Linked DNA regions of Homo sapiens. The protein of the gene in region 1 interacts with the protein of each later gene in a pairwise test. Each region holds a gene or a part of one and is shown in the gene's direction. Other genes may lie near its edges. The genes, in order: CLN8, TMEM134, TUBB4A and SPCS2.

Region 1 (7,977 bases):
GTTCCAGTGGCCACTGAGCCTGGTTCCTGGTCACACTGCAGCAACAGAGCTAACACTCTTACTGATGTGTTTGCATTCAGATTTTTAAAAAACTTCATGGCCCAGTGCAATAGAAGAGCTGAAACCACAGAATCTTATAAGACAAGCTTTTTGTATACATTTTCTCCAAAGAAAATGAAGATCTGCAGCGTCAAGAGATGGTGGCCTTCCAGGAGTTGTTTATTCTCCGGCTCCACTTCCTCTACTGCAGAGAGGAAAGGGGCTGGTGTGGAAGGGCTTGGAAGCCTTCCAGAATGAAAGAACCAGATGAGTCCATTAGGTTCGGCCTCCAGTTTTTTGTTTTTTTTTTTTTTTTTGAGACGGAGCCTCACTCTGTCACCCAGGCTGGAGTGCAGTGGCGCTATCTCAGCTCACTGCACGTTCCGCCTTCCAGGTTCCCGCCATTCTCCTGCCTCAGCCTCCCGAGTAGCTGGGACTACAGGCGCTCGCCATCACGCCTGGCTATTTTTTTTTTGTATTTTAGTAGAGACAAGGTTTCACCATGTTAGCCAGGATGGTCTCGATCTCCTGACCTCGTGATCCTCCCACCTTGGGCTCCCAAAGTGCTGGGATTACAGGTGTGAGCCACCCTGCCCGGCCGATTCGGCCTCCAGTTTTACCCATGGAAGGAACAGTGACTTCCAGCTGTGCATTACACTTAAGGACTCCTTCATGTGGCCTGAGCCTTATGGTGCACAGCAAGGGAACAGTGGGAACCCCTGTGTCCCATTTTGCGTATCAAGAGTGAGAGGGTGTGGTTGGGTCAAGGAGCAGAAATAGAAGCAAAAGGAGAAGCTGAGCTCTTCCCATACCCCTTCTGTGCTGCCTGACAGAACAAGGCCTAGCCACACTTCTGTGGGTGCCCACCTTGTGACTTGGGGTGAACCACAGCTGTTCTCAGTACAACGCTGATGCCACGAAAGGACAGCAGAGCTCTGCAGGACTCCAGGAAGACTGGGCGCTTGGGCTGGATCCTGCCTCTGGGACTGGCCTTCTACCCTCATGGCTGAGAGAGCTGAGGAGTTCACCTCCTTTGTGAACTCCTGGCTGGAGGATGCTGGTTGGCATTAACTAAACTCAGAGACCCACAGTAACGAGTTAGACTAGAACAGCACCAGCTTACCCAGAAAGTCAGGAGGTTTGAGCAAAGAATCAGAATGGGGGATTCACTACAGGACTGGAAGGGGAAGTAAGCATTCTGGTCTTTATAATCTGCTGTTTCTGCATCCCTAATTGGCACCTGTTCTCTGACTGCCAGGAGGGTTTGCCCACTCAGCTGTGGCTTACCTGTTTCTGTTTCCATGTCTTTCACCTATCTGCCACTTTTCTGTAGATATGGTAATCTCTCCAAAAAGATATCTAGAAAGCTTGAAGACCTGGTAGCTATTTGCTCTTATGGTGAAGATCACACAAACTAGTTGAACATCTGGCTTGTAGTAGGTGCTTCATTTCCCGCTGCTCTGTATGTTTCTTTCTTTTTTTTTTTTTTTTTTTTTTTTGAGACGGGGTCTCATCTTGTCACCCAGGCTGGAGTGCAGTGGCGCAATCTCAGCTCACTGCCACCTCCACCTCCCGGGTTCAAGCGATTCTCCTGCCTCAGCCTCCCAAGTAGCTGGGATCACAGGCATGTACCACCACGCCCAGCTAATTTTTTGTATCTCTAATAGAGTCGAGGTTTGACCATGTTGGCCAGGCTGGTCTCGAACTTCTGACCTTGTGATGCACCTGCCTTGGCATCCCAAAGTGCTGGGATTACAGGCGTGCGCCACTGCACTCGGCCTGCTCTGTGTATTTCTTTTTCCTGTAGTCAGATTCTGGGGTCCAGGGTGGTTAGGAAAGAAACTTGTTTTCTTTCTTTCTTTTTTTTTTTGAGATGGAGTTTTGCTCTGTTGCCCAGGTTGAAGTGCAGTTGTGTGATCTCGGCTCACTGCAACCTCCACCCTCCTGGGTTCCAGAAATTCTCCTGCCTCAGCCTCCTGAGTAGCTCAAATTACAGGTGCGCACCACCACGCCTGGCTGATTTTTGTATTTTTAGTAGAGGCAGGGTTTTGCCGTGTTGGCCAGGTTGGTCTTGAACTCCTGACCTCAAGTGATTCACCCACCTTGGCTTCCCAAAGTGCTGGGATTACAGGTGTGAGCCACCACACCCAGCCTGAAACTTGGTTTCTTAGCTCCTAAATAGTGAAATCAAGATCAGAGCCCACTAAGCCAGCCGCTCTTCTTGGTTTTTGGTTCTCATGTCCTGGAGTCCCTCTCACCTTGACCAAACCAAAGACCTCCTGAAGCATCACTTGGGCTCACCACTTCCACTGAGGTGGATTTGAGTCATTGATCTGGGCAGAGCCTTCTGGAGTCGGGGTTTCTCTCGTCTCAAGGCAGAGGTCCTACAGAAGTTAGTGGTCTTGGCCAAGCGGACATTGATGCAACTGTGGCAAAATGGGACCTATAAGTCAGAGCTGATGACCTACTCGTGGAAAAGTACAGGGAGAAGTTTTACGAGGGGTCCATATTTTAACCTTTAACAGTGTTGTTCACGTTAACCCTTGTAATGGATGCTATTCCTTGCCTGATACCTGTCCTTTCCACCCAGCCTGCTTTTCTTTAATGCTGGTAAGCGGTCTCCCCTCCAGGCATTAGGCTGCACTTGAAGTTGATCTGCTCCTGTGAAGTGCATAGGGGTTCAACGATGCCTTGCTGCACACTGAATACCAGAGCCGAGTGCTCTTGCCAGCCCCTTAATACCATGTTCAACCTGATTTGTCAACAGGTTAACAGAAATGTGTTTGGAGATGTGTAAGTACACTGGAGTCTTGATATATAGCATGACCAGAAGTGTGGGTCACGAGGGCACACATGGGCATGGCAGCCCCTCAGTTGTCATCCATAGCATCTATCAGAGAGCACGCCTGTGTGCCCTGAACTCACGCACCAGGGGCAGCATGACACGGGAGCCGTTTCTCTAGGGAGAAACATGAGTACCAGTGCTGTCTTTCCCCACATCAGATTTGTGTTCAAACAGAGCTAGTCTGTGTTAAAGCTGGAGTGTTAATGGAGAAACAGACAAACTCTTGTACTATTTTGCCTTTGATTATAGACCATTATCAAAGCAAGAGGTTAGGAGTGATCAGTGCTCCCTTGTCATTTGCATCAGGTCCCAGGACTCACATTCTTTGCATGCTTGTGTGAGCTAGTGTTTTCCATGTCCTTGGGGTGTGGTCACAGCGACCTTTTTGCCTGAATAATGATTGGCAAGTTTTTGCTGAATGGCCACAGTGAATGGCTCCTCCTATGCTTCTGGCTCTAGTCCTGCTGTCTCACAATTGAGTCAATTCTGGGGTCTCTTCCGGAGAGCAGAGGGTCCAGCTGCGTGGGGAGTGTGGTGTTCCCAGCCCTGCTGTCTGTTCGCTGGGTGTGAGTGACAAGAGTCCCCACTCCCTGCAGAAATTCCATTACCTGGACAAGTCCCTGCACACTGGGTGAGGGGGGACCAGGCGGGGACCTGAGTCTTTGTCGGTAGCCGTTCCTATGTCATCGTTGTGTGCCTGGGTTTCCTGCCGTGTAAAAGGAAAGGCTGGAATCAATCACACGTCCCTTCCAGTTTTTCAAGAACTTGAGACTCTGGTGTTTGTAGCTTTGCAGACAGGTTCAGGCTTAGGTAAAGTGGACCCTTTCAGCATGATTCAGCATCTGTTCATGTGTTCCATAAATGTTTCTTGAGGGCCCACTGTGGACCCAGTGCTGCATCAGGCAGAGGAGATGCTGTGATGGAAGGCAGGTGTGGTCTGTGCCCTCACAGAGCTTGCTGTCCAGTGGAGGTGAGGATTCAGTAAGCACTTGTCCTATGTGCACCCCACCAGCAAGTCTCCCGCCTTCACAGCAGTCCCAATCAGTCACACAATTCAGGCATCGCAGGATGAAACATATTTAAGTCATTACACTGGGATACACTTTGTTACAGCACTGAACTTCTGCTGTTTGATCCTAGTTAACACCCCAAACACCAAAAATGAGTGTTTGGGGTATGCATCAGGAGCTTGTAGCAAAGGTACTTAACCCAGTCCATGGGTCTCCCCTACTCTGGGAGGGCATCTGGAGCAAATGGCCTTTAAGTGAGGACCTGACAGGTAAGATGATGCCAACTTGGGGAAGGTAAAGACTTTTCCAGGAGAGGGCCCAGCAGCTGCAGAGACCCAGAGGTGCAGGAGAGTGTGATGTTTTCAAAGGACTGGAAGGTTATAGCATGGAGTGAGATGCAGGGGATGGTGAGAGTGGAACCAGAGAAGGTATAATTGATAATCACATTCTGCAGAGTGCCGTAGGTCACAGTGAGGAGTTCAGGCCTTCCCTGCTGCTGTTGAGAAGGCATTCCATGGCCTTAACCAAGGAATAACATGAAGAACAGGAGCACAGGTTTTCGTGACATCCTTGGGGTGTTAACTAGGATCAAACAGCAGAAGTTCAGTGCTGTAACAAAGTGTATCCCAGTGTAATGACTTAAATATGTTTCATCCTGCGATGCCTGAATTGTGTGACTGATTGGGACTGCTGTGAAGGCGGGAGACTTGCTGGTGGGGTGCACATAGGACGAGCATAGGACCGTGTGTTCCTGCCAGCACGGCTCCGGCCTCCTGTTCGTGGCTGGACCGCTCTAGCTTTAGTTTCATTTTCTTTCCTCCTATACTGTCAGTGGATGTTACCTTGGTATGTTTATGCACCCTTGTAAGTTCATTAAGAATAAGGTACAGAATTAAATATTTTGTAGTTTAATGTTTGCGTTACTGGGGTAGTGATGTGTCCTTGTTTCTATCGAGTCAACACAAAATGAATGATCTTTCTTTTAGATTGAAGATGGATACGTGACAATCCCAGGGACCGCTGCACTGACTTCATTTCCTTAGACAAGACACAGTGTAGGGCCCGGCCCGTGTTGGCCCCAGGACTCCTTTGGAATATAGCTGTGGACAATGAATCCTGCGAGCGATGGGGGCACATCAGAGAGCATTTTTGACCTGGACTATGCATCCTGGGGGATCCGCTCCACGCTGATGGTCGCTGGCTTTGTCTTCTACTTGGGCGTCTTTGTGGTCTGCCACCAGCTGTCCTCTTCCCTGAATGCCACTTACCGTTCTTTGGTGGCCAGAGAGAAGGTCTTCTGGGACCTGGCGGCCACGCGTGCAGTCTTTGGTGTTCAGAGCACAGCCGCAGGCCTGTGGGCTCTGCTGGGGGACCCTGTGCTGCATGCCGACAAGGCGCGTGGCCAGCAGAACTGGTGCTGGTTTCACATCACGACAGCAACGGGATTCTTTTGCTTTGAAAATGTTGCAGTCCACCTGTCCAACTTGATCTTCCGGACATTTGACTTGTTTCTGGTTATCCACCATCTCTTTGCCTTTCTTGGGTTTCTTGGCTGCTTGGTCAATCTCCAAGCTGGCCACTATCTAGCTATGACCACGTTGCTCCTGGAGATGAGCACGCCCTTTACCTGCGTTTCCTGGATGCTCTTAAAGGTAAGTGCATGCATCAGCAGAAGATGACATGTGCCTCACGCATTTAATCACTGGCTACAATGTCCTGGACGCTGCCATAAACTCAACAGCAGGCTGGATTGCAGCACACACATTCAGTTACAAACTCATTTTAGTTGAATGCAATATTCTGGTTTTGTTTATTTATTTATTTATTTTGAGACGGATTCTGGCTCTCGTCCAGGCTGGAGGCAATTTTCTTAATTTTAAGTCTTTTAGGCTTTCTCTTCCTTAAGGAAAGAAAGCTCAGTAGATTTTATGGCTCAGTAGATAGCGTCTGGAAGCACTTAATTTTTTCCTTTCTTTTAATACTATATTTATTTATTTATTTATTTTTTGAGACGGAGCCTCACTCTGTCGCCCAGGCTGGAGTACAATGGCATGGTTTCGGCTCACTGCAACCTCCGCCTCCTGGGTTCAAGTGATTCTCCTGCGTCAGCCTCCCTAGTAGCTAGGACTACAGGTGCGCACCACCACACCTGGCTACCTTTTTTGTCTTTTTAGTAGAGATGGGGTTTCACTATGTTGGTCAGGCTGGTCTTGAACTCCTGACCTTGTGGTCCGCCTGCCTGGGCCTCCCAAAGTGCTGGAATTACAAATGTGAGCCACCGTGCCTGGCCTCTTTTAATACTTTAGAAAAACTGAAGTAATATCTGTGCGTACACACATACCTTGCTTGCTTTTTATTTTTGAATAAGGTTGTTGTACTAGTGCTCAGAAGTGTTGGGACCTAGCATAGTTATTTGCCTAGCACTTTCTTTCTGTTTTTGAAGAACATGTTTTAAAAATATTTGTCACTTGATTGTCATATTGATGTCAAAATGTTCTTCATGTTAAACTCTTTAAACTTTTTTTCCTTTTGAGACGGAATCTTGCTCTGTTGCCCAGGCTGGAGTGCAGTGGCATGATCTTGGCTCACTGCAACCTCCGCCACCCGGATTCAAGCAATTCTCTTGCCTCAGCCTCCCAAGTAGCTGGGATTACAGCGCCCACCACCACGCCTAGCTAATTTGTGTGTGTGTGTGTGTGTGTGTGTGTATTTTTAGTAGAGACGGAGTTTCACTGTGTTGGCCAGGCTGGTCTTGAACTCCTGACCTCAGGTGATCTCCCCGCCTTGGCCTCCCAAAATGCTGGGATTACAGGCATGAGCCACCGTGCACAGCCTTAAAATTGTTTTTACATAGATTCTTGCTATCTTTTATGACCCATCACATTGTTTATGGGATATTTGATATGAAATTTGAGATCCTGCAAATGTTCAGCCATTCACACAAATGGGTCATGTTACTGCACATTTCTTGTCTACAGGAGACTGGTAGCCTCGAGAGGAAAAATAAGCATAACAAATCACTCCTGCCTTCGGGGTCGAGGTGGGTAGATGATATCAGTCCATCAAAAGTGCACTGCAGTGTAAACAGTACAGACTGTTCATGCATAACCACCATGGACACCAGCCGGGTGTCAGATACTGTGCTGGCACCTGGGAACTCAAGGAGGAACTTGTGTTCCTGGTGTCCCCTGAGGTTGGCCCCATCTGGCACCAGATGGGGTGTGTGAGCACAGTGACAGGAAAGTGCAGAGAAACCATGGCCCCAGATGCGGACCCTCTGCAGGAGGAGCAGGTGAGCACCTCGGAGTTAAGGCAAGTGAATGAGGGTGAGTGAGGCACAGTCGTCGCCAGTACAGAGCCTCACAGGGTGGCCATGGAAGTAGATGGAGCCTATGGCAGGCGATACTGGAGACATCCTGGTGAGTGCGTGGTTTGGGCGGTGGCAGGAGGAGGTTGGGGGCCGGTGTGATTTGGGTAGAACTTACCAAGGAAGAAGGGTTGGAACCATGAATAGTTTGAAAGAGCCCCTCCGGTGACCTGGCTACTGAGTTCCCTTGGCGAGCAAATGACTGAATATGAAGCTGCTGGTCTAAGTGTGGGTCATTTTGGGAACGATGCTGTGACCTGGGACCCCATCAGCATCCTGTACGCAGCTTGCAGTTTTCCAGTTTTCTCTTTGTGGGCGTTATTTCCATAAGAGTGCAGACTTCTGGGATGCAGGTCAGGGCTGTGACTTCCCTGGGTTTCTCTGGAGTGAGATCAGTGTGGAGTGGAGAGGTGTGTGCTGGAGGAAGAGGCCTTGGCCTGTGCTCCGCATTGCCTACTCCTCTCACCTGGAAACACCGGACTTCAGGAGTCACTCGGCTGTGGCAGAAAATAAAGTTCTTGAAAGGAAAGCAGAGGCGCTCACTCACATCGATGCCCTAAACATCAATACCACATCAATGTCCCAAGTGGTAAATAGTGACTAAATTATTAATACATCCCACAAGATGGTGTGCTTGAGGTCATTAGTGTATTTTGAGAAATAGATTAATAGTTATCTTGTATTTTATTTTTATTACAAGTTCTTTAAAAACAACA
Region 2 (8,008 bases), on another chromosome or scaffold:
CTCACTGCAACCTCCACCTCCCGGGTTCACGCCGTTCTCCTGCCTCAGCCTCCCAAGTAGCTGGGACTACAGGGGCCTGCCACCACGCCCAGCTAATTTTTTGTATTTTTAGTAGAGATGGGGTTTCACTGTGTTAGCCAGGATGGTAGAGACAGGGTTTCACCATGTTGGCCTGGATGGTCTCGACCTCCTGACCTTGTGATCCACCCGCCTCAGCCTCCCACAGTTCTGGGATTACAGGCATGAGCCACTGCACCCGACCGGGTATCTGGAGATTTTTACCTCTCCAGTGCTAGGAAGGGGCTATGCCCATAAACTCAACAGGAAGCAGTTACAGAAGATGGATCTCTGCCCTTCCGCTGCCCTCTTAAGATTAAGAAGGAGTATCTAATCTCTGAGCGAGGAATGAGGTAGGTGGCAGGACTCAGCTCTGGAGGTGGGACACAGACACCAGACCAGATTGAGAACTAGCTAAAACAGGGAATGCTGCGCATGGTGGCTCATGCCTGTAATCCCAGCACTTTGGGAGGGTGAGGCAGGTGGATCACTTGAGGCCAGGAATTTGAGACCAGTTTGGCCAACATGGTAAAACACCATCTCTACTAAAAATACAAAACTTAGCTGGGTGTAGTGGCGGATGCCTGTAATCCCAGCTACTCCGGAGGCTGAGGCAGAGAATCGCTTGAACCCAGGAGGTGGAGGTTGCAGTGAGCCTAGATCGTGCCACTGCACTCCAGCCTGGACAACAGAGGGAGACTCCGTCTCAAAAAAATAAAACAGGGAAGAGGTGAAAGCACCTCTCCATAAGACCTAAGACCCGTAAGACCAGTGCATGTCAGTTTACCATTGCCATGGCAACACCTAGAAGTTACCACCCCCTTCGGTGGCAATGACCTGACGGCCCAGAAGTTACCACTCTTTCCCTAGAAATTTCTGGATAATTCACCCCTCAATTTGCATGTAATTAAAAGTGGGCATAAATATGGCTGCAGAACTGCCTCTGAGCAGCTGCTGGGGGCACACTGCCTGTGGGATGGCCCTGCTCCACAAGGAGCGACGCCTGTGCTGCTGCTGTGCGCTGCTGCTTCTGTAAAAGTTGCTTTCCAATAAGTAAAAAATAAGGCCAGGCACGGTGGCTCACGCCTGTAATCCCAGCACTTTGGGAGGCTGAAGTGGGCAGATCAACTGAGGTCAGAAGATGGAGACCAGCCTGGCCAAAATGGCGAAATCCTGTCTCTACTAAAAATACAAAAATTAGCTGGGCGTGGTGGCAGACGCCTGTAATCCAAGCCACTTGGGAGGCTGAGGCAGAAGAATCGCTTGAACCCAAGAGGCAGAGATTGCAGTGAGCCGAGATCACACCACTGCACTCCAGCCTGGGCGACAGAGCAAGGCTCAGTCTTAAAAAAATAAAAAATTTTAAAAAATGTTTAAGTTGCTGTCTAACACCACCAGCTCACCCTTGAATTCTTTCCCAGGTGAAGCCAAGCACTCTCTTGGGCTAAGCCCCAATTTTGGGGATCACCTGCCCTGCATCAGCCTTGCTACGCTGAGGCTGATCTTGAATTCCTGGCCTCAAGTGATCCTCCTGCCTCAGCTTCCCCAAAGTGCTGGGATTACAGACATGAGCCACTGCACCCAGCCTGAAAAGGAGTGATTATTCTTTGAGAGCATGTTAGACAAAGAGTCAAAGACAGACAGATAGGAAATATGTGCAAGGTCATAAACCAGCAAGGAATTAATGATTAGATATGTTGATATGCAAATTAGTGGAAAAAGGCTAGAAACCCAATAGCAAAAAGAAAGACCAAAGATATGAAAAGCCAGTTCACAGACAAGGGACACCCAATGGCTGACAAGGGCACAAAGAGCAGCTCAAACTCTCCAGCCATCAGAGAACCCAGAGGAACATGAGGTACCACTTTAAATTCATCAGATCGGCAAGCCATTAAAAAGTTGGATGGTACCAAGTCCTGAGAGAACCAGAAGCCTCAGGTGGAGTGTCAACTCTCACAGCCACTCAGGAGAGCATCTGTGGTACCCTGTGAAGTCATGAGTGCGTGTGCCCTATAACCTGGAAATCCTACCCCAAGGGGAATTCTCCCACAGTCCATAAGGGGACAGCAGGAAGATGTTAACTGCAGTGATGCCTGTGATGGCGGGGTTGAGGCCAGTTTGAGTGTACAACACTGTGGAGGTGAGGTGGATCATAAAGGTGCTAGACACTCAACATGGTACAACATGCATGTAGCCTGTAGAAACAATAAACAAATGCATATGGAAAACAGCATCGAGAGCAAAAATGTAAACGTGTAAGTAACAGAACTGAATTTTCTGCATGACATCATGTTTGTAAATTGCAAACACATCCACATAGGAGACAGTGCCATACATGGTACAGAGCCAGGCAGGCTTTAAGGACGCCGACTGAGCATGCTGACATGGGTCTGATGGAAGGCAGGGGAGAGGAAGGAACCTGGGAAGTGAAAGAGGGTAAGTGAATTAACATAACTCGAGAGGGGCCTTATTCATAGTGTTGATGTGTAACAAACAGAAGTAGACTTGACTCAGCTCTGTACATGAGGCCATAAAATGAACATGAGGCCGGGTGTGGTGGCTCATACCCAGCACCTTGGGAGGCCGAGGTGGGCAGATCACGCCTGTAATCCTAGCTACAGGGGAGGCTGAGGCAGGAGAATCGCTTGAACCCAGGGGGCGGAGGTTGCAGCAAGCCGAGATCTTGCCACTGCACTCCAGCCCGGGTGACGGTGCGAGACTCTGTCTCAAAAATAATAATAATAATAATAATAATAATAAGGCAGGGCACTGTGGCTCATGCCTGTAATCCCAGCCTCCTCGGGAGGCTGAGGCAGGAGAATCACTTGAACCCAGGAGGTGGAGGTTGCAGTGAGCTGAGATCGCACTCCAGCTTGGGCAACAGAGCGAGACCCTGTGTCGAAAAAAACAAAAACAAAAAAGAACTCTTGACTAAGGTCCATAAAGCTCTCAAGGCTCTGGGGCCCATCTACTCCTCCCAGGCTCATCAAGTCGGCCTGCCCCTTTCCTTGCTGCTCAGCCACACTGGTTTTCTCACATTCTTCCTCCACAGGCCAAGCTCCTTCCCACCTCCTGGCCTTTGAACGTGCTGTTCCCTGGTGCCAGGAAAACACTGAACCTTGCTTTTCTCACAGCTGGCTCCTTCATCATCGGCATTCCTGCTCAAATGTCACCTCTTGGAAAGGTCATCTTTGAGTACGAAATCTAAAGTCAGTTTTGCATCACACAGCACTTGAAACTGTCTCATTTTGCACTGTTTTATTCACCACTGTATCTATAGTGCCCAAAACAGTGTTTGGCCCTAAATAGATGCTTAATAAATACTTGTGGCAGAAATGAATGAGGGGTTTGCCAAAGTCCCAAGTACTTACAAGTGGTAGAATGGGGATTTGAAACCAGGTCCACCTAATTCATAGAGTACTTCTGCTCTTCCACCCCCACCGCCCCCCACCACGGTTCATTTTTTTTTTATGGAGTCTTGCTCTGTTGCCCAGGCTGGAGTGCAGTGGTGTGATCTCCACTCACTACAACCTCTGCCTCCAGGGTACAAGCGATTCTCCTGCCTCAGCCTCCCAAGTAGCTGGGATTACAGGCACTGGTCACCGTGCCCAGCTAATTTTTGTATTTTTAGTAGAGACTGGGTTTCACCATGTTGGCCAGGCTGGTCTCAAACTCCTGACCTCAAGTGATCCACTCTCCTTGGCCTCCCAAAGTGTGAGCCACCGTGCCCTGCCAAGAGTTCAGATTTTATTCTAAGTGCAATGGAAAACCAAGGGAAGGTTTTTTTGTTTGTTTTGTTTTGTTTTTTGAGACGGAGTCTTGCTCTGTCGCCCAGGCTGGAGTGCAGTGGCTCAATCTCGGCTCACTGCAACATCTGCCTCCCGGGTTCAAGCAATTCTTCTGCCTCAGCCTCCCAAGTAGCTGGGACTATAGGCATGCACTACCACGCCCGGCTAATTTTTGTATTTTTAGTAAAGACGGGGTTTCGCCTTTTGGCCAGGCTGGTCTTGAACTCCTGACCTCAAGTGATCCACCCGCCTCGGCCTCCCAAAGTGCTGGGATTACAGGAGTGAGCCACCGAGCCAGGCCAGCAGCAAAATTTTTAAAAAGGGTTTTCAGAATAACACACGCAGATAAAAAGATTTGTTTTAAAAGATCACTTCGGCTGCTGCGTGGAGACTGACTGGAAATTGGAAGACACATAAGCTCTCTGAGCCTCGGTTTCCACATTTGCAAAAATGGGGAGAGCACCCCTCCGGTGCGGGGCTGTTGTGAGTAAGGTGGGGAAACAGTTCCCAGGAGTCTCCTTGGCACTCGAGGAACAGGCTGCGGTGCAAAAGGCCCTGTCAGGGACCTGGAGGTTGGGGCGTGGAAGCCCCTCCAAGCCCCCGCACATACACGCCTGGGGGATGTGTCCGAGCCCGGCACGGGCTGTCGCTTGCCATGGCGGCCACTGAGTGGCGTCACGGGGCGGGCGCGCTCCGTCTGGAAGAGGCTCCCACCCATCAGCCCGCTCAGGGCTCGGCAACTCTGGCCTGCTTAGGGCGGACGGGGGCGGGACCGGCGCGTGGGGCGGAGCCAGGGTCGGAGGGGCGGGGCATGCGGGGGCGGGGCAGCGGCGACGCTGGGTGTGTGGGCGCAGATGGCGGCGGCGCACGGCGCCTGAGCGGGCCGGGGCCATGAGCGCCGCCCGGCCCCAGTTCAGCATTGATGATGCCTTCGAGCTGTCCCTGGAGGACGGGGGCCCTGGGCCCGAGTCCAGCGGGGTCGCGCGCTTTGGGCCGCTGCACTTCGAGCGTCGGGCCCGGTTCGAGGTGGCTGACGAGGACAAGCAGTCCCGGCTGCGCTACCAGGTGAACCGCCCGGCCCACCTAACCCCCTGCCCCCGGCCGGACGGGACCCCAGGCCGGGCCCCAAAGGCCTCAACTCGGGGAAGCATCTGCCTAGAGGCCCCAGCTGAAGCGCGAGACCGCCCCCCCGCCCCGCGGACGTGACTCTTGATCCAGAGCCCTGCCCAGGCCCTCCCGGTTCCCATACCGGGCCCCAGCCAGCCGGGAAGAGCCCAGTGCCCGGGCCCGGGAGCTCATCCCTCAGCTCCAGCTGGGGAACCCAACCGGATTCCCCACTCATCCTGGCTACTCGCACCTGGCCCCCGCTGGGTTGGGGGAGCTCCTCTGTATCTGAACCAGACCTTGCCCCACACGCAGGAGCATCCCCTGTGCCCCAGGCCAGCTAAGCTGATGGGAACCCGCACGCCTTTCTCTATTCTGAAAGCCCTCTCCCTAATCCCACCACCACCCCTAAGAGCTGGAGCTCCTCTCACATGACCAGTCCTTGCCCACCCTTTGGCTCCCACTAAACCAGAAAAACCCATTTTCCCAGAAAACCTCCACCAACCCTAGGCTGCTTTTCTTGGAGACCTGGACCAGAACCCTGTGCCTTGAACCTGGGAACTCTGGGCCTGGCCTTTCCTGGCACCCCAATTCCCAAGCTCCCATTCTAGGCCACTGAATGAGAGCTCCACCCTAACCCAAAGTTGGGAGCTCTCCTTTCCCTGGGATCTATGCAGGCTCCTGCTCCCCAAAGCCCTGGCATCCACCCACCTCCTACCTGGTTTCTGTGAATCACCAAACCCGTTCTGCGGGGAGGGCAGAGGGCCAGGTGAACAGCTGCCAGGCGGCCAGGCAAATGGTTGTGTAGGCCTGCTTTTCTCTTCCCGGGAGGGAGTGAGGAAGGGCCCCAGCCCAGCAACCCCCCTGAGACCTGTGTTCTGCAACAGAACCTGGAGAACGATGAGGATGGAGCCCAGGCCTCTCCGGAGCCGGATGGGGGAGTCGGCACCAGGTTAGGGCCAGGTGGGGACCCAACCCTGTACCCCAGCCCCAGCTCCTATCCCCAGGGACCCTGCTCAGTCACCCACCCCACTTCACTCACTCTCTTCCATCCCGTCCTATTGATTCCTAGCCTGACCCTCACTTTCCTCACAGGGTCTCCTACACTGTAGGGTCACCCTACCCTAGTGCCCAGCTGTACTCACCTCTTTCAGAAACCCCCAGTCTGGTCTGGCCCCCACCTTCATACAGGTCACCTGTCCTACAGAATCCCCTAGCTCATCCCCAGCCCCTGAATTCATGCTCACCCACCGAGGCCTCTCAGGGCCCACTATCCTGCAAGGGGCCAGCCCCAGTCCCTGCACCATGCCCTGCACTTCATCAGGACTCCTGTCCCAAAGCAACCCCGTCCTTGCCTCCCTGCCCCTCACTGGGCGCCTGTCCTGGCAGGGATTCCAGCCGAACTTCCATCCGCAGCTCCCAGTGGTCCTTCAGCACCATCAGCAGCAGCACCCAGCGCTCCTACAACACCTGCTGCAGGTGAGCCTGCCCGCCTAAGCCCCCAGCCGAGCAGCCCTGGCTCCACCCCCACAGCCTCCTGCACCCCCTCCCTCCACCTCCTTCACATTCACCCTGCTCTCCTGCCACCCAGCTGGACCCAACACCCTTTGATCCAGAAGAACCGCCGAGTGGTGCTGGCCTCCTTCCTGCTCCTGCTGCTGGGGCTGGGTGAGTGGCCCTGAGGGTTGGGGTCAAGAGGGGCCCCGTGGGAGGCTCTGCCCTCCTTTTGTACAGGCTCTGCCTCCCCCTTGACACTGAGCCTCCCAGCATCCTGAGGAGGCAGCTGGCTGCCATCATCACACTCCCATTTTACAGGTGAGGAGACAGAGGCCTTGTGACCTGGGCACACAGCCAGGAAATCACACATAGCTGAAAATGGAACCTGGCTTATCACTGCAAAGACTTTTCCTTTTTTAAAAAATTTAACCTGTTTAAATCCATTAGAGGACAGAAGAGTAGCAGCTACCATTTATTCTGTGTCTACTCTGGGCAAGGTGCAGGGCAGTTTTATTTTCCCATCTTACAGAAGTCCTACAAGTGAGGTGGTGCCCAGAAGCCACGTGTAGGGGCTCAGGGATGCCGAGTGCCCAGCCAGTGCAGAGCCGCAGGGCACCTGGCACTTCCCCTTGTCTGGCATCTAAGCACTGACAAGCACCCCTCTCCTACCCATTGCTCAGATGGGGGAACTTTTGGTCCAGAGCAGGCAGATCTCACACCAGGTGTTCTTTGGCTCCCAGGCACCTCGTTCTTTGGGGTAGAGGAGGCAGAGTCCCCAGAAAGGATCCAGGGTTGGGGTCACGAGTGATCCATAAGAAGGGACTAACTGTGGCTGCTACCCTGGCTCATCTCTCCGCTTCTCCAGGAAGGCCAAGGCTCCCCAGCCAGCCAGGCCCCTGGCACAGAGTCTGGCCTCTGCTCAGGGTGTTTGAGTGTGGGGGAGGGGGCTGCCACTTCCCAGCACCGCTGTACACTGGCCCTGGTAGTGCTGCCAAGTTCTTTCATTTTTCCCCTCAACCCAGCAAGGCAAGCCTGGGGCTACCAGAGCGCCTTAGAGGGCCTTTGTAGGGTGCAGGGAGTGAGTTTCAGCCCCCATCATACCCTATACCCCTTTATTTTTATTTATTTATTTTTTGAGGAGGAGTCTTGCTCTGTCGCCCAGGCAGGAGTGTAGTGGCGCAATCTCGGCTCACTGCAACCTCTGCCTCCTGGGTTCAAGGGATTTTCATGCCTTAGCCTCCAGAGTAGCTGGGATTACAGGCGCGCGCCACCACACCTGGCTAATTTTTTGTATTTTTTTAGTAGAGATGGGGTTTCACCATGTTGGCCTCAGGTGATCCACCCACCTCAGCTTCCCAAAGTGTTGGGATTACAGGCGTGAGCCACCACGCCCAGCCCTTTTTATTTTTTAGAGACAGGGTCTTGTTCTGTTGCCCAAGCTGGAGAGCTGTGGTATGATCACTGCAGCCTCAAACTCTTGGACTCAAGCCATCCTCCCAGCTGAGCCTCCCTAGTAGCTGGGACTACAGGCATGTACCACCATGCTCAGCTAATTTTTTTTT
Region 3 (6,468 bases), on another chromosome or scaffold:
TGCTTGAACGGCAGAGGTTGTGGTGAGCCAAGATCATGACACTGCACCCCAGCGTGGGCAACAAGAGTGAAACTTCGTCTCCAAAAAAAAAAAAAAATTGTGAAGCTTAAAGTCATGAATATGTGTAGAGTTTAGAACAATGCCTGACACAGAGAAAGAGGTAAATAAGCATTTGTCGTTGTTTTCATTACTATCTGCAGTCTAGAATGTGAGTAGGATTTGGACTGGCCAAAGGGCATGGAAGGGAGGAAAGATGTTTAAGACGGAGGCAACAGCATATGTGAAGATAGTGGGGTGTCCACACCCTGGGACAATCCTTCCGGGAAAGCTTTCCTGGCTCCAGCTGGCTGCATGTCCCCACCCTGGCTCCACCCGCCTCCAATACTCCCAGCATGTAAGACGTGCTAAATGCAGGACCTGTCCTGCCTCTCTGAATCTTTTCCGCAACTCGCCTCTTACTTCCATTTTACAGGTGAGAAAACAGAGGCACAGAGACGTTAGGTCACTTGCAGAAAGTCACACTGCAAGCCACTGGGGCTGTCAGGAGCCAGAGGAGAGGGTCTGACTACTAGGTCCACGCTTTTTTTTTTTTTTGAGACGGAGTCTCCGTTGCCCAGGCTGGAGTGCAGTGACGCAACCTCCACCTCCCAGATTCAAGCGATTCTCCTGCCTCACGAGTAGCTGGGACTACAGGCATGCATCACCACACCTAGCTAATTTTTTGTATTTTTAATAGTGACGGGGTTTCGCCATGTTGGCCAGGCTGGTCTCCTATTCCTGACCTCTCAGGTGATCTGCCTGCCTCTGCTTCCCAAAGTGCTGGGATTACAGGCATGAGCAACCGCGCCTGGTCTGAGCCCACACTTTTAATGCTCCTCCCACCCCCTGGCCACCCAGAGGCCATAGAATCTCTTGGCCCAACTGTAAGCCCTCTGGTCCTCCTGAAATCACTCACACCATTTGGCCAATCTCATTTCATCTTGATTTCACCCAGCCATTTCCCAAGGACCTATGATGGGCCACGGCCACAAAACTGCATCATTATGTTTTGAAATCTTCCAACAGATCAGAAAGGGGAAGTCACTTGTCCAAGGTCACACAGTTTGTCTTGTCAGTCCCGAGAATCTGCAGTCTAAACCACCAGGCTCGGGAGGAGGAGGGAGGGGGTGACCAGAGGTGGCTTCTCTGAGGATGTGGCATTGAGCTGAGACCTGAAGGAAGTGAGGAAAAAGTCAGGTGAATACCTGGGGGGAAAGCATTCTAAGCAGCCAAGCCACTAGTGCAAAGGCCCCAGGGCAGGACCACACCTGGAAAGCTGGAGTAACAGCTGCGGCTGAAGCAGAGTGAGGGAGGGGATGGGGCAGGTCCGGCAGGGCCTTGTGGCCTGCAGGGAGGATTTGGGCTTTGACCCCAAGGTAGGTGGGAGCCATGGAGGGCTGTAGGCAGAGGAGGGACGGGACCTGACTTACTTGCTCTCAGGTGTCCTCTCGTGGGTACTGTGGAGAGGACAGACTGGGTGATAAGGGTAGGAGCCAGGGGACCAGGACAGAGGGAATTGAACTTATCCAGGAGGGTGATGCTGGAGCTGAACTAAGGTGGAGACAGATGAGGGGTGAAAGAAAACGTTAGCTGTTCACAGTAATACCGGCCAATATTCTTTTTTTTATTCCATTTTTTTTTTTTTTGAGACAAAGTCTCACTCTGTCGCCCAGGCTGGAGTGCAGTGGCGCGATCTCGGCTCACTGCAAGCTCCACCTCCTGGGTTCACGCCATTCTCCTGCCTCAGCCTCCCGAGTAGCTGAGACTACAGGCACCCACCACCACATCCAGCTAATTTTTTCTATTTTTAGTAGAGACGGGGTTTCACCGTGTTAGCCGGGATAGTCTTGATCTCCTGACCTCGCTATCCGCCCGCCTCGGCCTCCCAAAGTGCTGGGTTTACAAGCGTGAGCCACCACGCCTGGCCAATATTCTTCTTTTTTTTTTTTTTTTTTTTTGAGACGGAGTCTTGCTGTCGCCCAGGCTGGAGTGCAGTGGCACGATCTCGGCTCACTGCAGGCTCAGCCTCCCGAGTAGCTGGGACTACAGGCGCCCGCCACCTCGCCCGGCTAATTTTTTGTATTTTCAGTAGAGACAGGGTTTCACTGTGTTAGCCAGGATGGTCTCGATCTCCTAACCTCGCAATCTGCCCGCCTCGGCCTCCCTAAGTGCTGGATTACAGGCATGAGCCACTGCGCCTGGCCAATATTCTAATACTGATTCTTTTCCTCCGGGAGCTTGCATTCCACAGTGAGCTTGCAGACAATAAACATGATTAACAAGAAAACACAGGCCAAGCATGGTGGCTCACGCCTGTAATCCCAGCACTTTAGGAGGCCATGGCAGGTGGATTGCTCCAGCTCAGGAGTTCAAGAACAGCCTGGGCAACATGTCGAAACCCCACCTCTACAAAAAAAAGATACAAAAATTAGCCAGATCTGGTAGCATAAGCCTGTAGTCCCAGCTACTCAAAAGGCTGGGGCAGGAGGATCACTTGAACCTGGGAAGTCAAGGCTGCAGTGAGCCATGATTGCACCTCTGTACTCCAGCCTGGGCAACATACCAAGACCCTGCCTGAAAATGATATTATTATTAATAATGATGTTAAATATTAATCTTTTTATTGTTATTATTTATTTGTTTTAGAGACAGGGTCTTGCTCTGTCTCCCAGGCTGCAATGGTGTGATCATAGCTCACTGCAGCCTCCAACTCCTGGGCTCAAGCAATCTCCCACCTGAGCCCCCCTAGTAACTGGTACTACAGGTGTGCCACCACCATGACTGGCTAATTTATATATATATATATATATATATATATATATATATATATATTTTTTTTTTTTTTTTTTTTTTTTTTTTTTTGTAGAGACATGGCCTCACTAGGTTGCCCAGGCTAGTCTTGAACTGCTGGGCTCAAGCAATCCTCCCACCTCTGCCTCCCAAAGTGTTAGGATTACAGGCATGAGCCACTGTGCCCAGTCTTGGTTTTTTTTTAGGCAGGGGGCGGGGGAGTGTTTTGTGTGTATGTGTGTTTTTGAGATGGAGTCTCACTCCGTCACCCAGGCTGGAATGCAGTGGCTCAATCTTGGCTACCTGCAGCCTCCTCCTCCCAGGTTCAAGCAATTCTCTTGCCTCAGCCTCCCGAGTAGCCAGGGACTACGATCGCTCACCAGCACACCTGGCTATAATTGTTATTATTTATTATTATTATTATTATTATTATTTTGAGACGGAGTCTCGCTCTGTTGCCCAGGCTGCAGTGCAGTGGCACAATGTCGGCTCACTGCAAGTTCCGCCTCCTGGGTTCACGCCATTCTCCTGCCTCAGCCTCCCGAGTAGCTAGGACTACAGGCGCCCGCCACCACTCCCGGCTAATTTTTTTTGTAATTTTAGTAGAGACGGGGTTTCACCGTGTTAGCCAGGATGGTCTCGATCTCCTGACCTCGTGATCCGCCCACCTCGGCCTCCCAAAGTGCTGGGATTACAGGTGTGAGCCACCGCACCCGGCTATTTGTTATTATTTTTGATAGTTACTAGTATTCAACTACTAGAGGCCCTCCAGGTGGTGGAGAGACAGAGTCAAGGGTTGGGGCTCCCCATAACTGCATGTGTGTCCCCTCCCCTTCCCTCTCTAGGCCAATCCGGAGCCGGCAACAACTGGGCAAAGGGGCACTACACGGAGGGCGCAGAGCTGGTGGACGCTGTCCTGGACGTAGTCCGGAAGGAGGCCGAGAGCTGCGACTGCCTTCAGGGCTTCCAGCTGACCCACTCGCTGGGGGGTGGCACGGGGTCCGGAATGGGCACGCTGCTCATCAGTAAGATCCGCGAGGAGTTCCCAGACCGCATCATGAACACCTTCAGCGTGGTGCCCTCGCCCAAAGTGTCAGACACGGTGGTGGAGCCCTACAACGCCACGCTGTCTGTGCACCAGCTGGTGGAGAATACGGATGAGACCTACTGCATCGACAACGAGGCACTCTACGACATCTGTTTCCGCACCCTCAAGCTGACCACCCCCACCTACGGGGACCTCAACCACCTGGTGTCGGCCACCATGAGCGGGGTCACCACCTGCCTGCGCTTCCCGGGCCAGCTGAACGCCGACCTGCGCAAGCTGGCCGTCAACATGGTTCCCTTTCCTCGCCTGCACTTCTTCATGCCCGGCTTCGCACCCCTGACCAGCCGGGGCAGCCAGCAGTACCGGGCCCTGACGGTGCCCGAGCTCACCCAGCAGATGTTCGATGCCAAGAACATGATGGCGGCGTGCGACCCGCGCCACGGCCGCTACCTGACCGTGGCCGCCGTGTTCCGGGGCCGCATGTCCATGAAGGAGGTGGACGAGCAGATGCTGAGCGTGCAGAGCAAGAACAGCAGCTACTTCGTGGAGTGGATCCCCAACAACGTGAAGACGGCCGTGTGCGACATCCCGCCCCGCGGCCTGAAGATGGCCGCGACCTTCATCGGCAACAGCACGGCCATCCAGGAGCTGTTCAAGCGCATCTCCGAGCAGTTCACGGCCATGTTCCGGCGCAAGGCCTTCTTGCACTGGTACACGGGCGAGGGCATGGACGAGATGGAGTTCACCGAGGCCGAGAGCAACATGAATGACCTGGTATCTGAGTACCAGCAGTACCAGGACGCCACGGCCGAGGAGGGCGAGTTCGAGGAGGAGGCGGAGGAGGAGGTGGCCTAGGCTGCTCCCATCGCTTCCCACCTGTCCCCTCGAGGCTTCTGACCTTTGATCCGCTAGGCCCCCCATCTCTGAACCCTAGAGCCCCGCTTTCCCTCCAAGGCTGACTCCCCGCTGACCCTAACAATACCTTTGGAGCTCGCTTTACCTCTGGCTACTTCATCTCCGACCCTGGCTCCCCTTTGAGCCCTAATTTATCTTTAACCCCCTTGAGCTCTTCCAACCTTGACATTCCCAGGAGGAGCCCCGCTTCACCCCTTCTGACTCTGGAAACCGCACCTTTAACTTTGCAGACCTTCCTTCACCCCTGACTTCTGCTTCACCTTTGACCTCTGCCCCCCATGAATCCCATTTTACCTCTAGACCTATAAGTTCTGGTTTATGTTTGACCCCTCCCTCTGAGCTGCACTTCACCGCTGACCTTGCCTCACCTTTAACCCCCCACCTGAGCCCCAGCTCCTACCTCTGACCCCAACTTCTCTTTGATCTCTGAATCCCCTCTGACTCCAACTTCTCTTTCACCCTCTATGAGTCCCATTTTACTTCTACACCTGCAAGTCCTGGTTTATATTGGACCCCTCCCTCCGAGCTGCAGTTCACCTTTGACCTTGCCTCACCTTTCACCCCCCACCCCCCACAGCGTCAGCTCCTACCTCTGACCCCAGCTTCTCTCTGATTCCCACAGGCCCCATGCATCCTCCCTGCCTCACTCCCCTCAGCCCCTGCCGACCTTAGCTTATCTGGGAGAGAAACAAGGCCTGGTGCCTGTGAGGAAGAGAGGTCACCCCTACCCTCCCTCCCCGCTTCCCTGCCTCACCCTCAATAAATAAATTAATTGTTGTCATGGATGTTTCTGCCGAATCCCTCTTTCCTCTCTTACAGCAAGTGCGGGCTTTTCTCTACAGGATGGAGGAGGGTACCGATGACATCTCATCTCTGGATGGGGGGCGTGCTGGGGAGGGATCAGACGGGCCAGGCTAGGCCACCCACTAACCCTGAGGTTTTGACTAAGCCATTTGCCTTCTCTCAGCCTCGGTCTTCCCACCTGTAAAATGGGATCGTATGTTTTCCCCCAGGATCCCCCCACAACTGTTATAGGAATGGGGTCCCAATCCAGACCCCAAGAGAGGGTTCTTGGATCTCAAGAAAGAATTCAGGGCAAGTCCATAAAGTAAAAGCACGTTTATTAAGAAAGTAAAGGGGTAGGGCACGGTGGCTCACACCTGTAATCCCAACATTGGGAGGCTGAGGCAGGTGGATCACCTGAGGCCAGGAGAGACCAGCCTGGTCAACATGGCGAAATCCCATCTCTACTAAAAATAAAAAAATTCGCAGGGCGTGGTGGTGGGCGCCTGTAGTCCCAGGTACTCCGGAGGCTGAGGCAGGAGAATCGCTTGAACCTGGGAGGCAGAGGTTGCAGTGAGCCAAGATAACGCCACTGCACACCAGCCTGGCAACAGAGTGACACTCCGTCTCAAAAAATAATAATAATTAAATAAATAAATAAAGGAGCCAGGTGCAGTGGCTCATGCCTGTAATCCCAACACTTTGGGAGTCTGAGGTGGGTGGATCACCTGAGGCCAGGAGAGACCAGCCTGACCAACATGGTGAAACCCCAACTCTACTAAAAATGCAAAAATTACCTGGGCGTGGTGGCAGGCGCCTATAGTTCCGGCTACTTGGGAGGCTGAGGCAGGAGAATCACTTGAACCTGGGAGGCAGAGGTTGCAGTCAGCTGA
Region 4 (8,233 bases), on another chromosome or scaffold:
CCTATAATTACCTTATTCACCTGTGTAATCCCAGCATGTAGCATAGAGCCTACGACTCACTAAAAATATGTTGGTAAGATTAATGGATAGATGGATGGATGGGGACAAATTTATATTCAGTCAATATGTCTTTCAGGAACTCTCTCTCATGACCAATCACACACATCTGCTAGAGGTAAATGAAAGAATGAATGAGTAACTTGCTGGCTGGAAAATGTTAGATGTGATGTAATTTGCTGGCTGGAAAATGTTAAATATGATGGCTGTTGGAGAAGCCTTCAGTAACTTACAGAATATGGTGACCTGGCTTCAGGTCTCCAGAGTACTTACTTGATCTTTGACTTTGGGAATGGCCCCTTAACTTCCTTTTTTTTTTGTTTCTTCACTTGTTTCTTTGCCTGTAAGATAAATATTATATTCCTTCTTAGCCTGCTATTCAGAGCTCTTGAACTTCCTCATTAATTATATTCTACTGTGAGCCTTCCACTCCAATATTTGTCTTGCCTTTAGTCCTTGCCCGTAGGACTAAGGATCCAAGAAACAGATAGATACCAATACAGAGATGGAGACAAAGACAAGACATAGATGGGAAGGTGGTATAGGAGAATATAATTATGATAGTGGGGTATGGCTGGAGTGCTTAAATCAGACACACGAAGCACAAACCTGAAAGGACGGGATCGTTTACATGATTATTTACACAAAATAAATTTCTGCCAGATAAAAATAGGAAAGTCAAAGTTGAAAGATAAGACACAGTCTGGGAAAAGATATTTGCCATGCATATAATACAAAAGATGACTCACACTGAAGCCTGTAGGAGGCATGCAGACCTGGATGCTATCGCAGAAATTCTAGTTCCCTATTAGGAATATTAGGTGAGAAGGTGTAGATCTACAACTAATGGGCCAAGAAGGGCACATAACCCCTGGTTACATTATCTAAGACAAGTAAGATCTTTATATGGTAGAAAAAAAAGTCAAAGTTCCAGATTTGGAGGCTGACTTCCTGGTTAGCTTTAGTTACCTCTGGTCTCCATCTCAAACTTGATGCAGCTAATGCCAATCTGACTGTAGCGCTTCCTCCAAAACAAACATCTCTCTTTCTCTCTCTCTCACACACACACACACAGAGTAAGGCATATTTTTGCTTGTTCCATTCCTTTGGCCTATCACATTTCTGCCCCTCTTCCTTGCCCGGCTACATACAGATTAGCTTTCCTGTATCTCCCTCTCCTTAGGCTGAGCCTCCTCAAGCCCACTTCTTTTTTTATTTATTTTTTCTTTTTTTCTTGAGACAAGGTCTCACTCTGTTACCCAGGCTGGAGTGCAGTGGCATGATCTCAGCTCACTGCAACCTCCACCTCCCAGACTCAAGCAATCCTCCCACCTTAGCCTCCCAAGTAGCTGGACCACAGACGTGTGCTACCATGCCCAGCTAAATTTCTATATTTTTGATAGAGATGGGTTTTCACCATGTTGCCCAGGCTGCCTCAAACTCCCAACTCAGCCTCTCAAAGTGTTGGGATTACAGGCGTGAACCCCCTTGCCCAGCCATCAGGCCCACTTCTTAATGGAGGCACTAACATGGTTAGGCTTTGTGTCCCCACCCAAATCTCATCTTGAATTGTAATCCCCATAATCCCCATGTGTTGAGAGAGAGACCTAGTAGGAAGTGATTGGATCAAGGAGGTGGTCCCCCATGCTGTCCTCACCATAGTGAGTGAGCTCTCACGAGATCTGATGGTTTTATAACTGACAGTTCCTCCTTCACACTCTTGCCCTCTCTTGCCTGTTGCCATGTAAGACTTGCCTCTTCCCTTTCCGCCATGATTGTAAATTTCCTGAGGCCTCCCCAGCCATGCAGAACCGTGAGTCAATTAAACCTCTTTCCTTTATAAATTACCCAGTCTTGAGCAGTTCTTTATAGCAGTGTGAAAATGGACTAATACAGGCACTATACCACACTGTATTATAATGCCTGCTTCCTTGTTTGTTCCCCACCTCACTACAGGCTGTGAGTATCTCCAAGGTCAGGTCAGGCCTGGGTCCTACTTACCTCTTTTTCTTTTTTTTTTTTTTTGAGACGGAGTCTTGCTCTGTCACCCAGGCTGGAGTGCAGTGTCGCTATCTCAGCTCACTGCAAGCTCCGCCTCCCGGGCTCACGCCATTCTCCTGCCTCAGCCTCCCTAGAAGCTGGGACTACAGGCGCCCGCCACCATGCCTGGGTAATTTTTTGTATTTTTAGTAGAGACGGGGTTTCAACATGTTAGCCATGATGGTCTTGATCTCCTGACCTCGTGATCCGCCCGCCTCGGCCTCCCAAAGTGCTGGGATTACAGGCGTGAGCCTGTACTTATCTCTTTATCCTGCATCTCACACAGGACCTGGCCTACTGAAGGAAGAGTCTCAATGATTGTTAATTGAACTAACCCAACCCATGAACAAAATGCCACAGGAGCACTTCATGCAGTGGGTGAAGAAAGAAGAAGCAAGTATCAGAAATAGTTTCACAGGGTAGGTGACATTAAAGCTGGATCTTGAAAGATGAGAAGTTGGCCTGGTGTGGTGGTTCATGCCTGTAATCCCAGCACTTTGGGAGGCCGAAGCAGACGGATCACTTGAGGTCATGAGTTCAAGACTAGGCTGTCCAACACGGCGAAATCCTGTCTCTACTAAAAATATAAAAATTAGCCAGGTGTGGTGGCATGTGCCTGTAGTCCCAGCTACAAAGACTACAGCTTGGGAGGCTGAGGCACAAGAACTGCTTGAACCCAGGAGGCAGAGGTTGCAGTGAGCCAAGATCCCACCACTGCACTCCAGCCTGGGTGACAGAGTGAGACTCTGTCTCAAAAAATAAAAAATAAAATAAAAAGTGACTAGGGCAATGCTGTATCATCTCACTTTATTTTAAATAAAAGAAAAATGAGAAGTTGTAAAAGATAAACTGCAACAACAAGCTACAGGGGATCTGACTAGTGTCCACGGATTGCTTCACAGAGGTAATGAAATATCATCTGATGTTATTGCTATTTAGTGATATTTATTTTCTTTTTAGTAATAATTTAGTTATTTAGTGATAATTATTTTCTTTTCTTTCTGATCTCGGCTCACTGCAACCTCCGCCTCCCCGGTTCAAGCAATTCTCCTGCCTCAGCCTCCCAAGTAGCTGGGATTACAGGTGCCCGCTACCACGCCCGGCTCATTTTTGTATTTTTAGTAGAGACGGGGTTTCACCATGTTGGCCAGGCTGGTCTTTAACTCCTGACCTCAGGTGATCCGCCTGCCTTGGCGGGGATTACAACCATGAGCCCCCACGCCCGGCCGAGATAATTATTTTCACATGAATTTTGGCTTCCCCAAGACAAGTTTTTGTCTGTTTTATTCAGGGATATATCCCTGGTGACTAGAATAGTGCCTGTTACATAGTAAGAAACTCAAAAATATTTGTTTAATTCTTTAGACGCTTATGGGGGATATATAGGAATTAAAAAACAATACAACGTAATAGAGCATGGTATAATACAATACTGCTATTTGATAACTCTGTCATGGAGTAGTAGTTCCACCAGAGTAGCAACCAGGTCTATCTTGATCCCCTGTATCCGTTAGTACAATATTGGTGCTCAATATACATTTGTGAAAAAAATTAATTAAAATACAACGTAATAGAGCATGGTATAATACAATACTGCTATTTGATAACTCTGTCATGGAGTAGTAGTCCACCAGAGTAGCAACCAGGTCTATCTTGATCCCCTGTATCCGTTAGTACAATATTGGTGCTCAATATACATTTGTGAAAAAAATAATTAAAATCTAGAATACTATTACATCCTAAAACCGTAAAAGCAGAGTGTCAGAAGGGATATATATTGGTTTTGATTTTTTTTAAATGCCGGCTTGAAAACCGAGTTCAGATACATGCTATCTGGCTTTGGGTAGGTTCTTTAGTTTCCTCCTCATCTAACAGGGCTGTTGTGGGACTCAGTGAGAGAGAGGATGGCTGGAAGTGCACATAGGATACTGCCTGGCAGACTGTAGGCACTCAGTAAACGCGAGTTCTCCGTTAACACGAAAACATTACAAACAGCTAAAATGACAGCTGCTTGAGAGAATAATCGGTAAGTGCCACAACCGGGCTAGAAAAGGATGAAGGACAAGCTCCTGCCCACTCCTTTGGAAACTCCACACCTGGGCCGGAGAAAGACTCGAATTCGAAAACTAAGTTTCAGTCGCACCTGCCTCCGGCGTCGCTTCAGCCTCCGAGGGGTCTGCGGAGGCGACGTCCCAGTCAGGAGGGATGCGCGCCTGCGAGCCCCCCGGGGATCTCGGAGCCGCTCCACTGCGGTGCCTGCCGCTATCTTCCCCACGCCTTAGTAACTGCGACGCGACGGCAGACAGTGTAGGCGGCAACCGACGGCCGGGACGTCTAACCTCAAGTCCCAGCAAGCCCCGCGGCCACGTCCTCTGACTACCTCGCGCCAGCAAGACCCAAACTACGGATCCCGATTGACTCCGCGCGGCGCGTCACGCTGTCAGCTCCAGCCAATCGGCTTCAGACAAGTCGGAGGGGAGGGAGACGCAGAGGCGGACAAGATGGCGGCGGCAGCTGTACAGGGCGGGAGAAGCGGTGGTAGCGGAGGCTGTAGTGGGGCTGGTGGTGCTTCCAACTGCGGGACAGGAAGTGGCCGTAGCGGCTTGTTGGATAAGGTGAGGAGCCGGTTCTTGGGAACAGTTGAATCCTGGGGAGGCCTGGGAGGCGGCGAGCCAACCTTCCCATCCCGGTCTCCCTTATTTTCTACGGCCTTTTGAGGGGAGCCCTTGTGTGACCACTATCACAACCCTACGCACGCTTGGAGCCTGCCCTTGCCCTCATCACACTTCAAACCTGGACCCGGTCCTCTTTAGAACTTCTTCTTTTCTCGCAAGTGTTCTGGTCCTGGTCGCCACACCTTTTTCGGTAATTTGATTTTTCCTATATTTAATCGTGTCCATCTCTTTTCTCCTGGGGGGCTGGGTGCACTGTTGTCAGTGCCCATTTCACAGACACGGAAAACCGAAGCCCAAAGATTAAAGAATCAGTATCCCCCAAACTCTCTACCACCATCACCCTTGCGTGCTGCTACAGATTCCAAAGTGCTTCTTGTCCTTTTGCTTACTGAAGTTTTTAGGCGTTTTATCATGATAGGCGAATACTGAAAATATTTGAGTATTGACTGTTCTACTGGGCTGACAAGAAGCCTTTAAGATTTTTCTTTTTTTCCTGTTGTTTTTCCCCGCCCTCTCCTCTCTTCCCTCCACCTCCCTCTTTGCTACCAAGTGCACTGCTGCCCGCTCACGCTTGCCCCTTTCCTCCCTCTGCTCATCCAAAAAAATTTTTTTTAACTGCAGTCCTAGCAACAAGGGTTTAAAAGAAAAGAAAAAAAGGAAAACTGTCCCTGGGTTGGCCTTTCTTGCTCTTTGCACAGCATCTTGGAAGAAACAGTTGCACGGAGAACAACGTCCTGGTGTTGATTTTGCCTCTAATTAGCTTTGTGACCTTGAAATATGCTTGCTCTCTCTATATCTGTTTTCTCATCTGCAAAGTGAGAGATTTAGCCTTAAAATGAGGGACTTAACTCTAAATTCCCTTCCAGTTCTCTCATTGTAGGGCCCTGGGCTGGTTTGATGAGAATTGTTAAGCATGGTGTCTTTAATATAGTAAGCAGAATTTTTGAATATAATTGAAAACAGCTTTCAGACTTCCCTGTGCATAACACATGGTAGGTGCTTAAGAAATGAAAACATGATTATGTTGAGGGGTTAAGATCCAGGTCTTTTTACTTGTCTTTTTGAGTGTCATTGGTTTTGAAAGACATGGTTCTCACACTCTTCTCTTGTGAGAGGGGTCACGCTCCATTGCCCAGAATGGATCTTAGCTCACTGCGGCCTTGAACTCTTAAGCTTAGGTGATCTTCCCACCCCAGCTTCCTGAGTAGCTGGGACTGCAAATGTGCACCACTATGCCTGACTAATTTTTTTGCTTTTAACTTTTCTGTAGAGTCAGGGTCTTACTGTGTTGCCCTGGCTGGTCTCAAATTCCTGGGCCTCAAGAGATCCTCCCACCTTGGCTCCCCAAAGTGCTGGGATTACAGGCATAAGTCACCATGCACCTGGCCTCACACTCAAACCTTAAGATACAGAAACATATTCTGGAGGTTGGGATGGTAAATTGCTTCAAGACATGTGAGAGTATGGGGAATTGATGGTCATTTGTGTACACAAATCCTTCCCTCTTGCTAGGTAAGCACCTCATAGCCTGTGCTTACCTGCCCCACTAACTGCTCTTGCTCTTCCTTGCACTTGGATCATCATCAGCAAACATTAAGTATGGGCATTCTGCTAAGGCAGTATAGAATACTATTATTATGGAATAGTGTATATGGCACCATTGTGTTATTGAAAGAACCCGGATGTGGGGATCATAAGATTTCAGCTTTGAAGTATTTCTGCTACTTGCTAACAGTATGAAGATTGGCAAGTCACTTAACCTTTCTTCATTTGGAATTTTGGAATCTCTGGCACCTAGATCACAGGGTTTTGGGAAGAACCAAGTAAGACAGTACACATTAATGATCTCCATTACCTGTAGTGTCCAGTACAGATGTGTGATGGTGGAGGAGTAAATCAAGAATCCTACTGTCAGAGAGCACTCAGAATAGCCAAATATAGGAGATGGGGTAATTGAATCTATTTAAGGAAGTATATGGTATATTCGCTCAAGTGTGTACTTGTTACGGAAGTTCAAATGAGAGAAATAGAGTGAACCCTGCGAGCTTATTGATAAGAGTAAGAGCCTCGGCCGGGCGCAGTGGCTCACACCTGTAAACCCAGCACTTTGAGAGGCCAAGGCAGGCGGATCACCTGAGGTCGGAAGTTCAAGACCAGCCAGACCAAGATGGAGAAACCCCATCTCTACTAAAAATACAAAATTAGCGAAGTGTGGTGGTGCATGCCTGTAATCCCACCTACTCGGGAGGCTGAGGCAGGAGAATCGCTTGAACCCGGGAGGTGGAGGTTGCAGTGAGCCGAGATCACGCCATTGCAGTCCAGCCTGGGCAACAAGAGGGAAACTCTGTCTCAAAAAAAAAAAAAAAAAAAGAGTAAGAGCCTGAAGGAAAGGCCTCATTCCTGAAAGTGGAACTGGCACCTTATTTGGGGGGAGAAAAGAAAGACATGCCAGGTAAAAAAGTCTCCTTGAGTAAAGTTACACAGATGTGATGGTGTTTTATGTTTCTCAGGTATTGAGTTGACTAGAAGGCTCTCTAAAGGAACTGTAGTGACAAGTAGATAGCATCTGATTAGGGAGGCCGTGGATTGCTTGAAGTAGAGGAAAGCTGTTGAAGGGTTTTGAGACTGTGTAAAGTGGTTTTTAGGAAAACTATTCAGATGGTTTGGAGAGACAGAAATTAGAAGACTTCTTAATAAGGCCGTATACACAGTAGTGTATAATATATAATAAAAAGAGACAAATTTGAGTTCTAGTGCCGCATGTTATTAGGTTGGTGCAAAAGTAATTGCTGTTTTTGCCATTGAAAGTAATGGCAAAAACCACGATAACTTTTGCACCTACCTAATAAAAGCCACATGACCTTGGATAAGTTGTGTGATATTACTGAATTTAAATTTCCTTATGTAAATATTGTGGACATTCATACATATTATAGGCTTGTTGTAAGGATCAAATTGTATAGTGCTGGTAAATGTTCTTTGGGTTTTTTAGTTTGGTTTCCTCTGCCCTTTTTATTTTATTTTTATTTTTATTTTTGGTAGAGACAAGGTCTCACTGTGTTGCCCAGACTAATCGTGAACTCCTGGCCTCAAGTGATCTGCCCACCTCAGCCTCCCAAAGTACTGGAATTACAGGCATGAGCCACCGCACCCAGCTCTGTTCCCTGTCCTTTGGAATCTACTAGAAGTAAATGTTCTTTGTAAAGGGCTGTCTGTGGTAAAAAATAGAATGACAAGGTGATGAGAACCCCAACATGAGTAGCAGAAATAGATAAAAGGTCTCACAAAAGAGTGCTTGGAAGATTTAACCAATAAGTGAGGGACAGAAGAGAATAGTCAAGAGCTGCTTGAGTGCCTTTTCTTGGAAAACTTAGTTTCAGCCTTACATTGAACTGTTCCCTCCCTGAATTCCTCTAGCACTTACACTGCACATGGGAATTAAGCTGTCACTTAATATGACA

The links.
Region 2: the proteins of CLN8 (region 1) and TMEM134 interact in a two-hybrid assay, tested with the Homo sapiens proteins (one study listed by BioGRID).
Region 3: the proteins of CLN8 (region 1) and TUBB4A interact in a two-hybrid assay, tested with the Homo sapiens proteins (one study listed by BioGRID).
Region 4: the proteins of CLN8 (region 1) and SPCS2 interact in a two-hybrid assay, tested with the Homo sapiens proteins (one study listed by BioGRID).

What each region holds. Positions count from the first base shown.
Region 1 is NC_000008.11:1,766,052-1,774,028, forward strand, and holds part of CLN8 (protein CLN8), read left to right. Parts: intron 1-4,880; 5' UTR 4,881-5,003; coding exon 5,004-5,546; intron 5,547-6,872; coding exon of another isoform or gene 6,873-7,121; exon of another isoform or gene 7,122-7,977. UniProt on the Homo sapiens protein: Could play a role in cell proliferation during neuronal differentiation and in protection against cell death.
Region 2 is NC_000011.10:67,465,921-67,473,928, reverse strand, and holds the start of TMEM134 (transmembrane protein 134), read left to right. Parts: upstream 1-4,677; 5' UTR 4,678-4,736; coding exon 4,737-4,910; intron 4,911-5,836; coding exon 5,837-5,901; exon of another isoform or gene 5,902-5,912; intron 5,913-6,338; coding exon 6,339-6,428; intron 6,429-6,540; coding exon 6,541-6,617; intron 6,618-6,764; coding exon of another isoform or gene 6,765-6,787; exon of another isoform or gene 6,788-8,008.
Region 3 is NC_000019.10:6,493,428-6,499,895, reverse strand, and holds the end of TUBB4A (tubulin beta-4A chain), read left to right. Parts: intron 1-3,674; coding exon 3,675-4,732; 3' UTR 4,733-5,577; downstream 5,578-6,468. UniProt on the Homo sapiens protein: Tubulin is the major constituent of microtubules, a cylinder consisting of laterally associated linear protofilaments composed of alpha- and beta-tubulin heterodimers.
Region 4 is NC_000011.10:74,944,688-74,952,920, forward strand, and holds the start of SPCS2 (signal peptidase complex subunit 2), read left to right. Parts: upstream 1-4,578; 5' UTR 4,579-4,598; coding exon 4,599-4,712; intron 4,713-8,233. UniProt on the Homo sapiens protein: Component of the signal peptidase complex (SPC) which catalyzes the cleavage of N-terminal signal sequences from nascent proteins as they are translocated into the lumen of the endoplasmic reticulum.